2 separate regions of the Homo sapiens genome follow, and region 2 is reported to be linked to region 1. The links are microRNA targets in miRTarBase. Many come from high-throughput screens and were not tested one by one. Region 1 holds a microRNA gene; the other region holds the end of a gene's coding sequence.

Region 1 (7,118 bases):
ATCCAGATCCAGTTGTTCCCCATTTACTGTCAGGTCCATTTTCTTAGAATGAAACAAGGATTCACCTTTAACCTGTATTGAAAAGGAGAAAAGGAATTAAAAATATTTAAGGAAACCAACCATGGCCACATATAATTACATACAAATTGTATGCCAAAAGAACCGCTGCCAAGAATCTTTATGGTTTTAGTGATAACAATCTAATTTATTGGAACTTTAAAAAACTGTTTATTACAGGAACCTTTCAACATACACGAAAGTAGAAAGAGTAGTGCAATGATGCCCATGTACCTATCACCCAGATGCAAGGCCAACAACACATAGCCTCTCTTACTTCATCTTTTCTTCCTTTCATCCTTTCACCCCCGCCCAGATTATTTTGAAGCAAACCTCATATTTCAGCAGAAAATACCTCACTATAATATATTAAAGTTTCAACAAAATATTTTAATCATATCAGTTACAGTCTTTTTTAACAGACTTTTATTTGTGTAAATTATAAATATCATAGGGGAGCATATATGCACAAACTAAGTAACCACCAAGTAGATAATAAATAAGAATTATAAGAAAGAGGGGAGATATTTTAGGCAGAACAATTTGATAAGAGGCATAAATATACAAACAAGCAAGATGCATGTGAGTGACAGGGAGGACAAAATTAACGGCAGCAGCGAACCATTTGGTTGATCTGTAAGTGGATAAAAAGGTGATGAAATATATTTAATTCATTGAGGCATGATAGACTACATTCCTGAACACAGGAATAAAGAAGATGATACTCACATCTTTTTCAAAATAATAAGCCACATCAGCTATGTCCACATCATTCTGAGTTTTTTGAGAAGAATTTTGAACCAGATCAATAGTGATAACATTATTCTCATACTGGGGAAAAAAATTGAATAATACAAATTAATACTAATATAATCAAAATCATTTGAAAATAACATTAATTGAGAATCAGAATATTCAGTGTTTGATTTTCTATAATCTACATGCATCACTGTTCCTTTCCATTAGTGGATAACTAAGTTTATCACTAATCAAGAAATCTTTGGGAGGTCTCTAAATCTATCAAAGGGAAATAAGACAGCCATGCAACCAAACATAATTACAATGTACAATTTTTCCTAAGAGGATTTTCTTATATTGAAAAGATTTTTAAATAAGATATGAAAGTATTTTATTTGGATTAGAACTACTTTAAAACTAAATTACTAAAGAAATGAAAGGTAAGGCCGGGTGCAGTGGCTCATGCCTGTAATCCCAGCACTTTGGGAGGCTGAGGTGGGCGGATCACCTGAGGTCCGGAGTTCAAGACCAGCCTGACCAACATGGAGAAACCCCATCTCTACTAAAAATACAAAATTAGCCAGGCGTGGTGACACATTGCCTGTAATCCCAGCTACCAGGGAAGCTGAGGCAGGAGAATCGCTTGAACCTGGGAGGCAAAAGTCGTGGTGAGCCGAGATGGCGCCATTGCACTCCAGCCTGGGCAACAAGAGCGAAACTCCGTCTCAAAAAAAAAAAAAAAAAAAGAAAAGAAAAAGAAATGCAAGGTAAAACGCAGCATGCATTTTCCATGTTGTTTTTTTGTTTTGTTTTTGAGACGGAGTCTTGCTGTGTCGCCCAGGCTGGAGTGCAGTGGCACAATCTCAGCTGACTGCAAGCTCCGCCTCTCAGGTTCACGCCATACTCCTGCCTCAAGCCTCCCGAGTAGCTGGGACTACAGGTGCCCACCACCACATTCGGCTATTTTGTATGTTTTTAGTAGAGACAGGGTTTCACTGTGTTAGCCACGATGGTCTCGATCTCCTGATCTTGTGATCCACCTGCCTCGGCCTCCCAAAGTGCTGGGATTACAGGCGTGAGCCACCGTGCCCGGCCATCATTTTGTTTTTAAAGAGTAAAAAAAGTACATTCTTTCTAAAGACTCTTGAATAAATTCATACTACCTTTAAAGAGTTCCGTCACACTATTCAAGCTTCTTTTTATTTTTTAAACCAGAGTTTAAAGAGTTAAGTAAGGGCTAACTAGTTAAGGACTAGTTCCTTAAAGCAGAGAAGATGGGAGCTCCAGTAACATCCTAAAGTAAATATGCACCAAAACTGTATTTACCAAAAGTAATTTTGGTGCATATTTACTTTAAGATGTTACTGGAGCTCATCCACAGGGACAGGTTCTCCAGGATAAGAAAACTCAAATGTTTTAGGGATACTAAGAGATACTACGTTTTCTTTAGGAGTAAAACTAGGCTTTTCAAAGGCTATGGAAGGAAAACAACGATAACCAAAAACAATGGGCCGGGCGTGGTGGCTCACACCTGTAATCCCAACACTTTGAGAGGCTGAGGCAGACAGATCACTTGAGGCCAGGAGTTCGAGACCAGCCTGGCCAACATAGCAAAACCCCGCCGACACTAAAAATACAAAAATTAGCTGGGCATGGTGACATGTGCCTGTAGTCCCAGCTCCTCGGGAGGCTGAGGCATGAGAATTGCTTGAACCTTGGAAGCAGAGGTTACATTGAGCCGAGATCTTGCCATGACACTCCAGCCTGGGGAAGAGAGCAATAGTCTGTCTTAAAGAAACAAACAAACAAAAAAAAACAGTAACAGGAAATTCACATTAAGTACCCAGATCCGAAACTGTTGCTCCAGTAAGTGCATTTAACCACCACTTAAATCACTGGCTGTCCTTATACTCAAAACATACTGTCTCACCAACTGTCTGCTAAAGCTCACTTATTAAAAAATCATACCAAAATACTCGTGATAAATTTTGGATCCAGTTGATAACGCGTTGTGATCTCCTTCTGAAGTGCACTGTAAAGAATTTAAAATCTGTATTAAAAAAAAATGTTTGTACCACACAACAGTAAGAAGCACTACTCTTTAAGCAGACAGCTCAGGGTCTAAAACTGTCATTAAAGTTAAAATTTTTCTGCCATTTTGCAACTATCATAATAATAATTGATTCAGGCTGGAATCATCCATTGATATTCAAACTGCTGGGTACCAGTTTAATTAGAAAAAGAACATTTACTTAGTATCCAAGTATCTGCCCATAGATTATTTATGGATTACAAAGGGAGAATGGTAACTTCACAGTGGAAAAACCTGGTGGATACCACTTTAACCAAAGTTTACTTTACTAGTAAAGGGACAAGCTGACATCATGCAACTCCTAATGTGAAGTATTATAAAGGACACAAGATCGCTTAAGTAGTTTTCCTGTCAAAAATGCATAACCTGCTTTTAGTTAAGAGGGAACATCAAGGCTCGGGTGAGGTGGCTCATGCCTGTAATCCCAGCACTTTGGGATGCTGAGGTGGGCAGATCACCTGAGGTTGGGAGTTCGAGACCAGCCTGACCAACGTGGAGAAACCCCGTGTCTACTAAAAATACAAAAAAAATTAGCCAGGCATGGTGGCGCACGCCTGTAATCCCAGCTACTCAGGAGGCTGAGGCAGGAGAATCGCTTGAATCCGGGAAGCAGAGGTTGCGGTGAGCCGTGATTGCACCATTGCACTCCAGCCTGGGCAACAAAAGGGAAAACTCCAACTCAAAAAAAAAAAAAAAAAAGGAGGAAATATCAGACAAATCAAAATTTGAGGGACATTATATATAATGACTTGCCCATGCTCTTTAAAAATAGCAAGTTCATGGAAGACAAAGAAAGGCCAAGAAACTGTTCGATATTAAGAGACTAAAGAGTCATGACAACTAAATGTGATACATGGATCTTGGACTGGGTCCTGAATCAGAGGGGAAAAATTACTACAAAGGACAATATTGGGAAAATGGGCACAACGTGATATAACGTTAAATTTCCTGGCCGGGCGCGGAAGCTCACACCTGTAATTGCAGCACTTTGGGAGGCAGAGGCGGGAGGATCACAAGTTCAGGAGTTCGAGACCAGCCTGGCCAATATGGTGAAACCCTGTTTCTACTAAAACTACAAAAATTAGCAGGGCGTAGTGGCAGGCACCTGTAGTCCCAGCTACTTGGAAGGCTGAGGCAGGAGAATCGCTTGAAACCGGCAGGCGCAGGTTGCAGTGAGCTGAGATCACGCCACTGCACGCCAGCCTGGGTGACAGAGCGAGACTCCGTCTAAAAAAAAAAAAAAAAATTTTTCCTAAATTTGATCGTTGTATAGTGGTTTATATAAAAGAATGCCTTTTGTTCTTAGGAAAACATACACTGAAGTACTTAGGGGTAAAGGGGCCTGATGTCTACAACTTGCTCTCATGTGCTTCTGGGAAAAATATTTATACATGCATAGATACACTGATGTAAAGCACACACACATATTCATCCACACATACACATATAAAAAGCAAATGTGCCAAAATGTTAATTGGTGAATCTGAGTGAAGTGTATTCCCAGAATCTCTGTGCTATTCTTGCAACTCTATTTCAAGTAACTTTATTTTTCAGAAATATAAAAAAGCATTTAGACTTGCTTTTTCTAATGGTGTAGGATGGAAGATTTGAGCCACCAACTGTGCAAGAATATGATGCATTTAATTGCACTTACGTCCGCAAACTTTTACTATCATAAGGTTTTTCTCTTGCTTTGTGTTTTAGTTCAATGATGATCCAGCTATAAAGTAAAAAGACAATGTCAGTTGACTATAACTCAGTCTTCCATACTATTTTCCTAATAAGCTAATCCTAAAATTCTCGAATTATAAGGACTAAGAGAAAAAAAATTTATGCAGTAGCTATTCCTATAATTTCTTCCCTTACACATCCTTCATAAAGGACACACCCAGGAGGGAACACCTTTTCTAATATTGACCCTCTGTTCTCTGGACACAATACATAAAGTCACATTAAGTCAAAGTTTAGCTGGCAGTGTCATGCCCTGTTCAACTAAAAAGATGAAAAGGCATGAAAGGCCCGGGCATGGTGGCTCACAACTGTAATCCAACACTTTGGGAGGTGGAGGTGGGTGGATTGCCTGAGGTCAGGAGTTGGAGACCAGCCTGGCCAACATGGTGAAACCCCATCTCTACTAAAATACAAAAATTAGTCAGGTGTGGTATAGCTGTAGTCCCAGCTACTCAGGAGGCTAAGGCAGGAGAGTTGCTTGAACCCGGGAGGCAGAGGTTGCAGTGAGCTGAGATTGTGCCACTGCACTCCAACCTGGGCAACAAGAGTGGAAATTCCATCTCGAAAAAAAAAGAAAAGAAAAGAAAAAAGAAAAAACAAAAGAAAGGGCACAAAGAGAAAACTGACAACGAGGCTCCAGAAGACCAGAACAGAAAAACAAAGTGCCCACTTTGGTCCTGACATCCTTTCCAGTTTCTAGTCCCTTCCAATGAAGTCTTTTTTTGCTTAAGCTAGCTTGAGTGGGTTTCTGTGCCTTTTCATTAAACAATCCCTAAAACAAGCATATCTCACTTTTAAAACACAATCAATAAGCAAATACATAGGTTAAATTACATACATTTACTACTAATGCAACAATGAAATACTGAATAATGTTAAGTAAAGATATAAAAGAAAAATTATACCTAGTATGCTATCATTTATGTAAAAATAATAAAACAGATATATAACAAATTCATCAACTATCTCTGGAAGGTTATAGAATAATCAATAACATCAATTCTGTGGAGGTCCAATGGGTAGCGAGGGGGACTGGAATGAGAAGGAAGCTTTTCACTGGACACTCATATCTTCTGAATTCTAAACCATGAAATCATATTACATAATCAAAAATAAATTTAATTAAATGAATCTGAACAGCATGAAAACAAGTAGTATAGGCAGCCCCACTCACTAGGTTCTCACTCGCTCAGAGCAGGTTATTTCAGTGTCCTTGTCTGTTCTTCTGACCCCAGCAGTGTTCACACACCAGCACATGGAGGTGCCGTTGCACTGCTTGGCCTTAAAGAGCCCGCTCTCATCGCAGTCAGGATCATAAAGCCCATCATTGTTCTGGAGGGCCCCTTCAGGTTTTGCTCTTCTCCCAAGTTTTGAGCCATTCATTTCTGCCTTCATCACCAAACATTTGGCAGCCACTGAAAAAGAAACCTTAATGCCAAACTGAAAAATAACTGATTTCATGATTACGGGAAAAAAAAAATTAACTCTAAAGTTCCAGGGTCAAAGATTATTTGAAATTTATGTGTTCCCACACTTACTTTGTAACATGATTCAGATTTAAGCCAATAAAACTCTTTCCAACTCAAGGCACATCAATTAAAGAAGTATTAAGTCAAAATAAAGCTTACAGGTAATTAGGATATTTTACTCACGCTTTGAGCAAATGACAGTATTTTGTGCACCAACTGAAGTACACTGGCATTGACGATTATTATTCACAAAGCAGTTTACGGCCAGCTTGTAGTTTTCACAGACACATTCTAGAAAATTAAAAAAAAAATCTACTTTAAAATGTGGATCTATTAACTCTCATGTCCCAGCTAAGTTATATTGTAATAATAATGCCTAAAGTTACAAGGACACAAAACCTTAAAAAGTGGTTCTGAATGTTTTATTTTTCAGCTATAGACTACTGCCTAAGTGCCTGGCACTTGCTAAAGTTTGCATACTGTATACAGACACATAGTTTAATCTGCATGCATTCCTGTTTTTTTTTTTTTTTTTTTTTTTTTTTTTTAAAGATAGGGTCTCACTCTGTGGCCCAGGCTGGAATGCAGTGGCACAATCTTGGTTTACTGCAGCATGGACCTACAGGGCTCAAGTGATCCTCCTGTCTCAGCCTCCCAAGTAGCTGGGACTACAGCCATGCACCACCATGCCTGGCTAATTTTTAACTTTTTGTAGATACGGGGTTTCGCCATGTTGCCCAGGCTGGTTTTGAACTCCTGGCCTCAAGCAATCCTCCTGCCTCAGCCTCCCAAAGTGCTGGGATTACAGGCATGAGCCACTGTGCCTGGCCTCCTGTTACAATTTTTTTAAAACAAGAACACAGCTCTCCAAGTATCATTTCTAGCTTTGTCTTTGTGAAACTCCCAGTCTTAGCTCCTTCCACAGTCCTGTCCTGCTAAGTAACATCCCTGTTAGTCACTGCCTTTTTTTGTTTTTCTTCTTGAGACAGAGTCTCACTCTGTCGTGCAGGCTGGATTGCAGTGGTACAATC
Region 2 (7,120 bases), not on the chromosome of region 1:
ATTGGCTGTGGGTTTGTCATAAATAGCTCTTACTATTTTGAGACGTAAAACCATAAAAACCCTAAAAGAAAACCTAGGCGATAACATTCAGGACACAGGCATGAACAAAGGCTTCATGACTAAAACACCAAAGAAATGGCAACAAAAGCCAGAACTGACAAATGGGATCTAATCAAACCAAAGAGCTTCTGCACAGCAAAAGAAACTATCATCAGAGTGAACAGGTAACCTACAGAATGGGAGAAAATGTTTGCAATCTGTCCATCTGACAAAGGATACATTGTATCCTTTGTCTATCTTTGGATAGATAAAATATCCAGACTCTACAAAGAACTTAAACAAATTTACAAGAAAAAAACAAACAGCCCCATCAAGAAGTGGGCAAAGGATATGAACAAATACTTCTCAAAAGAAGACATTTATGCAGCCAACAAACATATGAAAAAGTGCTCTTTATCACTGGTCATTAGAGAAATGCAAATCAAAACCACAATGAGATACCACCTCATGCCAGTTAGAATGGCGATCATTAAAAAGTCAGGAAACAACAGATGCTGGAGAGGATGTAGAAATAGGAACGCTTTTACACTGTTGGTGGGAATGTAAATTAGTTCAAACATTGTGGAAGACAGTGTGGCGATTCCTCAAGGATATAGAACTAGAAATACTTGAAACAAGGATATAGAACTAGAAATACTAGAAAAGTGGGTGAATGATATGAACAGACACTTCTCAGAAGAAGACATTTATACAGCCAACAAACATATTTAAAAAAAGCTCATCATCACTAGTCATTAGAGAAATGTAAATCAAAACCACAGTGAGATACCATCTCATGCCAGTTTGAATGATGATCACTAAAAAGTCAGGAAACAACAGATGCCAGAGAGGATGTGGAGAAATAGGAACACTTTTACACTGTTGGTGGGACTGTAAATTAGTTCAACCATTGTGGAAGTCAGTGTGGCGATTCCTCAAGGATCTAGAACCAGAAATACCATTTGGCCCAGCAATCCCATTACTGGGTATATACCCAAAGGATTATAAATCATTCTATAAAGCCACATGCACACGTATGTTTATTGCAGCACTGTTCACAACAGCAAAGACTTGGAACCAACCCAAATGGCCATCAATGATAGACTGGATAAAGAAAATGTGGCACATATACACCATGGAATACTATGCAGCCATAAAAAGGATGAGTTTATGTCCTCTGCAGGGACATGGAGGAAGCTGGAAACCATCATTCTCAGCAAACTAACACAAGAACAGAAAACCAAACACCGCATGTTTTCACTCATAAGTGGAAGTTGAACAGTGAGAATACATGGACACAGGGAGGAGATCACACACTGGAGTCTGTCAGGGGGTGGCGGACTAGGGGAGGGATAGCATTAGGAGAAATACCTAATGTAGATGATGGGTTGATGGGTCAGCAAACCACAATGGCACATGTATACCTATGTAACAAACTTGCACATTCTGCACATGTAACTCAGAACTTAAAGTATAATTAAAAAAAATTAAAAATAAGGACGTTTGTAGGCTTGTTTTACAGGAGGCCTTGTCCTAGAGCAAGTTCAATGACATCATCAAAGAATCCTCTTCCAGACTTTCTAATCTTCACCCTCAAACTGCAATAGTTGTTATATGACTGTCACTAGCAATTGAGACTACATGCTCCCTTATTTATATTTGGAGGGAAAGGCTGGCTTTGTGTGCTATTTTATGAAGCAGGATTTTTCTCTGCCAGATGCTTCTAGCCCCACTTTTGATTCATTGCCCCAAATTTATTTAAAGCTGTCCATCCTTGTATCCAATCACTTGTACGGGGCACGGGATTACTAAGATTGGCTTAAGATGAAACACACCCCACCCTGAGCTGGGAATGGTGTTGGCTTGCCTTGTGAAAGAAGGCTTGGCCCATGTGAAAGAAAGATGGATATCTAACCGTTTGGGGGGCGGGGGAGGCAGGGGAGATGAGGATTCATTAGGAAAGGGGAAGGGAAGAATGGAAAAGGCAAGCACTGTACTAACTACATGAAATATGCATTTGAGGCAGAGTTGATAGGGCTCACCAATGGATTGGATATTGGGAGAACAGAAGATTCAATAAGTTTCTATATTTTTGGCTTAAACAATTGGGTTGAATGTGGGTCTATTTACTGAGGTGGGGAAGACTGGAGGAAAGATCAGGTTTGAGAAGGATAATGAAGGGTTCTCTTCTCATCAAGTTAATTTTAACTCAGACATGGAGAGGTAATCAAGTTGTTAGTTGAATATATGAGATTAGAGTTTCAGGGAGAGGTCAAAACAGGAGATTTGGAATCATACATGTGGAATTGGTTTAAAAGCAACTGACACTGGTGAGATTACTAAAGAGAACATATGGATACAGCAAGAAGTAAACTCAGGACACTTAAAGGCAGAGTGCAATAGGAGCCATTAAGGTAGCTGGAAAATCCAAGGCCAGTCCCCCAGCATCATGTGTATGGGTGGAATGAGGGTGGTGCTAATTGTCAGCTCTCTGCCAAGTGGGTGGGATGTGTTACCTCTCTCAAAATGGGAAGTGTGGAACAGGAAGGATATAAATGTTTAAAAATATACAGTGCAGACGACAACATGCTGTAGAAAGCATTATTAATATAACATTCAATCTTTCAAAAGGGACTTGGCTCATTATGATAGTCCTCTAAACTTTTAGTGGGAATAGGATGGACATGCCATCCCCTACAGCAATTCTATGCCAAGGCCTAATGAAAAATGCTGACCATTATTACATCTACAATTTCATTTCAAACAGAACTGAATTTTGGAAAATAATTATGAAAAATTATAGGGGAAAAAAGGGAGTCATTGCTAACAGAAACATTTATGTCTGTATCAATAAAAACTTCTACCATGGAGTAAATTTGCAGCAAACTTCATTTTTTCTGTGTAGCTACTCAACTAAAATTTAAGGAGCATTTATGTAAGACTATATTAAGTGCTGTTGAAAGAGAAACCCTAAGTTGTGCAGAATAGTCCCTTCCATTGAAGACGTTTTTTGTTTCGTTTTGTTTGGAACCACTTCCTGAGTGACTATGGGCAAATTATTCAGCATCTTGGTGCTTTTCTTCATATATGAAATGTACATGATAACATTACCTATCTCAGGGTTGTTGTGAAGATTAACACATATAAATAGCTGAGAACAACGTCTGGTACATAGTAAGCATCAGTTATTAAGGGGAGGTAAGGCAACTCCCATATAAGTGGTAGCATGGCTCAGTAAAAAAAAAAAAAAAAAAATTGATTGATTACCACCACTATATTATCACATGCTAATCTTCAGCTCAGCCCTGCAGGGATTCTTTCCATTTTATAGAACAGGAAAACTGTTAATAGGCTGTTCTGAAACTTAACACACAACTAATAAGTGGTCTAATTATGAGTCAAACCTTGAAGTAACATCAGAACTCATGCACTTTCCAAAATATCTGCAAGAAACCCAAGAGTCCGGAAACCTAGATTCTAGCTCTGTATATGCCACCTATTAGCTGTTGCAATCCTGGGCCCTTTTACTTCCTAACTTACTCTGAGACTGTTTTCTATTTGACAAAATTGTTTACAATAAACAGGCCTCTCCTCCCTGCTTCACAGGGTGGGTCACTGTGAAGGTCAAATGAGAGAAATCTACAAATTGTAAAATTTCAAATAATAATTTTTTTCATCTGCCTGACTAATCTCCTTTCCTACTTCAGATGTGTTTTTATCATCCTGATGTCAAATACCAATTTTCGGGTACCCAATCCTTAACAACTACTACCTAAATTTTGATATTTAATTAAGGACAAAACACTGGATAACTACAAATAACCCATTAAAGCCTCTGCTCAACTCCTATGAGGTTTCAAAATTATACCTCAATAATTTAAAATCATCACATTAAGTGGCCATCATTCAGGCCATCACTTAATACTGTCAGTAATCTGACACTGTTAGGGTGACCACATCCTGTAACCACAGACCAAAATATTGAGAAAATGCACATCAAAATACTTCTTAGCATGTTACAACATCAACATAGCTGCCTGTGCTTCATTATATTTATAAAAATATCACTTACCTTATACAAAAATTAATTCAAGATGGATTAAAGACTTAAATATTAGACCTAAAACCATAAAAACCCTAGAAGAAAACCTAGGCATTAACATTCAGGACATAGGCATGGGCAAGGACTTCATGTCTAAAACACCAAAAGCAATGGCAACAAAAGCCAAAATTGACAAATGGGATCTAATTAAACTAAAGAGCTTCTGCACAGCAAAACAAACTACCATCACAGTGAACAGGCAACCTACAGAATGGGAGAAAATTTTTGCAACCTACTCATCTGACAAAGGGCTAATATCCAGAATCTACAATGAACTCAAACAAATTTACAAGAAAAAAACAAACCCCATCAAAAAGTGGGTGAAGGATATGAACAGACACTTCTCAAAAGAAGACATTTATGCAGCCAAAAGACACACGAAAAAATGCTCATCATCACTAGCCATCAGAAAAACGCAAATCAAAACCACAATGAGATACCATCTCACACCAGTTAGAATGGCAATCATTAAAAAGTCAGGAAACAACAGGTGCTGGAGAGGATGTGGAGAAACAGGAACACTTTTACACTGTTGGTGGGACGGTAAACTAGTTCAACCATTGTGGAAGTCAGTGTGGCGATTCCTCAGGGATCTAGAACTAGAAATACCATTTGACCCAGCCATCCCATTACTGGGTATAGACCCAAAGGACTATAAATTATGCTGCTATAAAGACACATGCACACGTATGTTTATTGCAGCACTATTCACAATAGCAAAGACTTGGAACCAACCCAAATGTCCAGCGATAGACTGGATTAAGAAAACGTGGCACATATACACCATGGAATACTATGCAGCCATAAAAAATGATGAGTTCATGTCCTTTGTAGGGACATGGATGAAATTGGAAATCATCATTCTCAGTAAACTATCGCAAGGACAAAAAACCAAACACCGCATGTTCTCACTCATAGATGGGAATTGAACAATGAGAACACATGGACACAGGAAGGGGAACATCACACTCTGGGGACTGTTGTGGGGTGGGGAGAGGGGGGAGGGATAGCATTAAGAGATATACCTAATGCTAAATGACGAGTTAATGGGTGCAGCACACCAGCATGGCACATGTATACATATGTAACTAACCTGCACATTGTGCACATGTACCCTAAAACTTAAAGTATAATAATAATTTAAAAAAAAAGAAAAAAAGTATCACTTATCCATTCAAAACTTTTATACTTTCCAAAGTTCTTTGGTGTTCCTTATTCCATTTGATCATCTAGCAGTTCCGTTAGGCAGGCAAGGTAGGTTTATGCTTGTCTTAAAAACAGAAACATATTTATGCTCAAAATCATTTTGAAGTATAACTTGTATTTCAGGCCACCAACCCCTATTTTGGTATCTGCACTGCATTGTTACATAAATTTTACATTTGAAATTACTCAACACTACAGATTGATTGTAGTTCTTAGTAACAACATTTACATTTGAAAATATTCCTAAAAAATACCCCGTACATTTAAGTCATCACAAAGAATCCTTTACAAACCAAATTAAATCTCCCATTCACAAAAGTGATGTGGCAACAGCTATCACTCTGTGAAAACTCAGTTGTACTAAATGAGCCTGCTATGTAGTACCTGAAAATATGCACTTGTTGATAAAGTATCTTGAGCCCACTTCCTCAATTTTAATAGAAGACACCATTCTTACTGTGATTAAACTACTTTGGACTTTAAGTACCAATAATACGCTAACAACCATTAATAATATTATTAATGGCTCAGGAACTAAGTAAATTACAGCAATTTAAAATGATTAATATTTTTAAAACACAGGTTTTGAAAGGTCACCTTATAAATGTCAGCAAATGTTGCCTAAGCTATCAAAATACAGAAGAGATTAAGGTTCAATGTGATGTAAAAGAAATTCCTTATAAAATAGAAGTAACAATTAATTGATGTGGTTTAAGAAAAGTACTGAATTGGGAATCAGGTGAAATCTACTCCAGATCATTTAACCTGAGCCTCACTCAGTTAACATTAAAAAAAAAAAAGAAAATTTCATAATATGAAATTTTACTATCTATATATAATAAGGTTTTGGAAAATCATGACAAGAAAATTGATTAGAAGCAAAAGATTAAGACTTCTGAACCAAACCAAGATTATATCAAAACATTTATTTTTTGTGTTACAAAAACACAAATAAATCCAAGCAGATAATGAAATAAACACATTTTTTTAGTGTCCCATCCTGGGTTCTCTGCCCTAGAATGTATTAAGCAGGTCAAGTTTAGGTTACTTCAACACTTCTTCTGGATGCTATGAAGTCTCCATCTTATAACCATGTTTCTCTAGTTCAGCTCTAAGATAAAACAGAAAGAACATCACTAGGTATTCTTTATAATAAACATTCTTTTAGAAACAATACAATAAATAAACAAATAAATGAGCTATGCCTGAGACATCAATTTACAATACCACTGAATAGTTTTACTTTTGTCTCTGAAAAAAAAACATAAGAAAATTGGATATGAGTCAATATAATACTATAAAATTTTGTTTTTCCCATTATTTAACTTGTATTTTATCTTCCTTAATTTTCTTATAAGTCTATTTGTGGAAGAAATGTGAGGGACTTACTGCTATCCTTCAAATACTTTCCAAATGCTATATGAATGTTCTGTTCCTAATAAATATTTAAACATAAGTTTTGAGACTCATTAACCTCAGGCAAAGTACACATCACTATCAAACCTTTAGGGATTTTACAATGATCATAACAGGTATTACTATATTACTGTTGTATATGCAGAAAGAATAAACAGATTGCTTTCCATATTGACATATATGTATTGCTCTAACCTTATTTGCCACAATTCAAAGTTTATGACAAAATTAGTAGATGGCTAATCCATGATAAAACACTGAGTAAACTTAAAGTATGATTAATATGCTTTACATCATTACATCCAATAAGATAGACATTTGTTCTCAAGTAAATTTGGCTTAGACACCACTACACTA

What was found. Region 1 holds the annotated microRNA hsa-miR-559 (UAAAGUAAAUAUGCACCAAAA, at 2,131-2,151, opposite strand). A microRNA usually pairs through its seed, bases 2 to 8, with sites in the 3' UTR of a target mRNA and lowers its output. Matches are read on the target gene's strand: a 7mer-m8 pairs with bases 2 to 8, a 7mer-A1 pairs with bases 2 to 7 and ends in A, and an 8mer does both.
Region 2: miRTarBase lists SEM1 as a target of hsa-miR-559. The part of its 3' UTR that is shown has no 7-base or 8-base seed match.

What each region holds. Positions count from the first base shown.
Region 1 is chr2:47,372,723-47,379,840 of GRCh38, reverse strand. It overlaps MIR559 (microRNA 559), which reads right to left and starts at 2,166; the gene lies at 2,071-2,166. It overlaps EPCAM (epithelial cell adhesion molecule), which reads right to left. Exons shown (of 9, transcript NM_002354.3): 2 at 6,271-6,378; 3 at 5,793-6,033; 4 at 4,542-4,607; 5 at 2,764-2,827; 6 at 787-888; 7 at 1-72.
Region 2 is chr7:96,682,509-96,689,628 of GRCh38, forward strand. SEM1 (SEM1 26S proteasome subunit) reads right to left here. Exons shown (of 3, transcript NM_006304.2): 3 at 6,254-6,458. The coding sequence ends at 6,416. Among named protein-coding and RNA genes, the nearest start is that of SEM1, 24 kb to the right of the region's middle.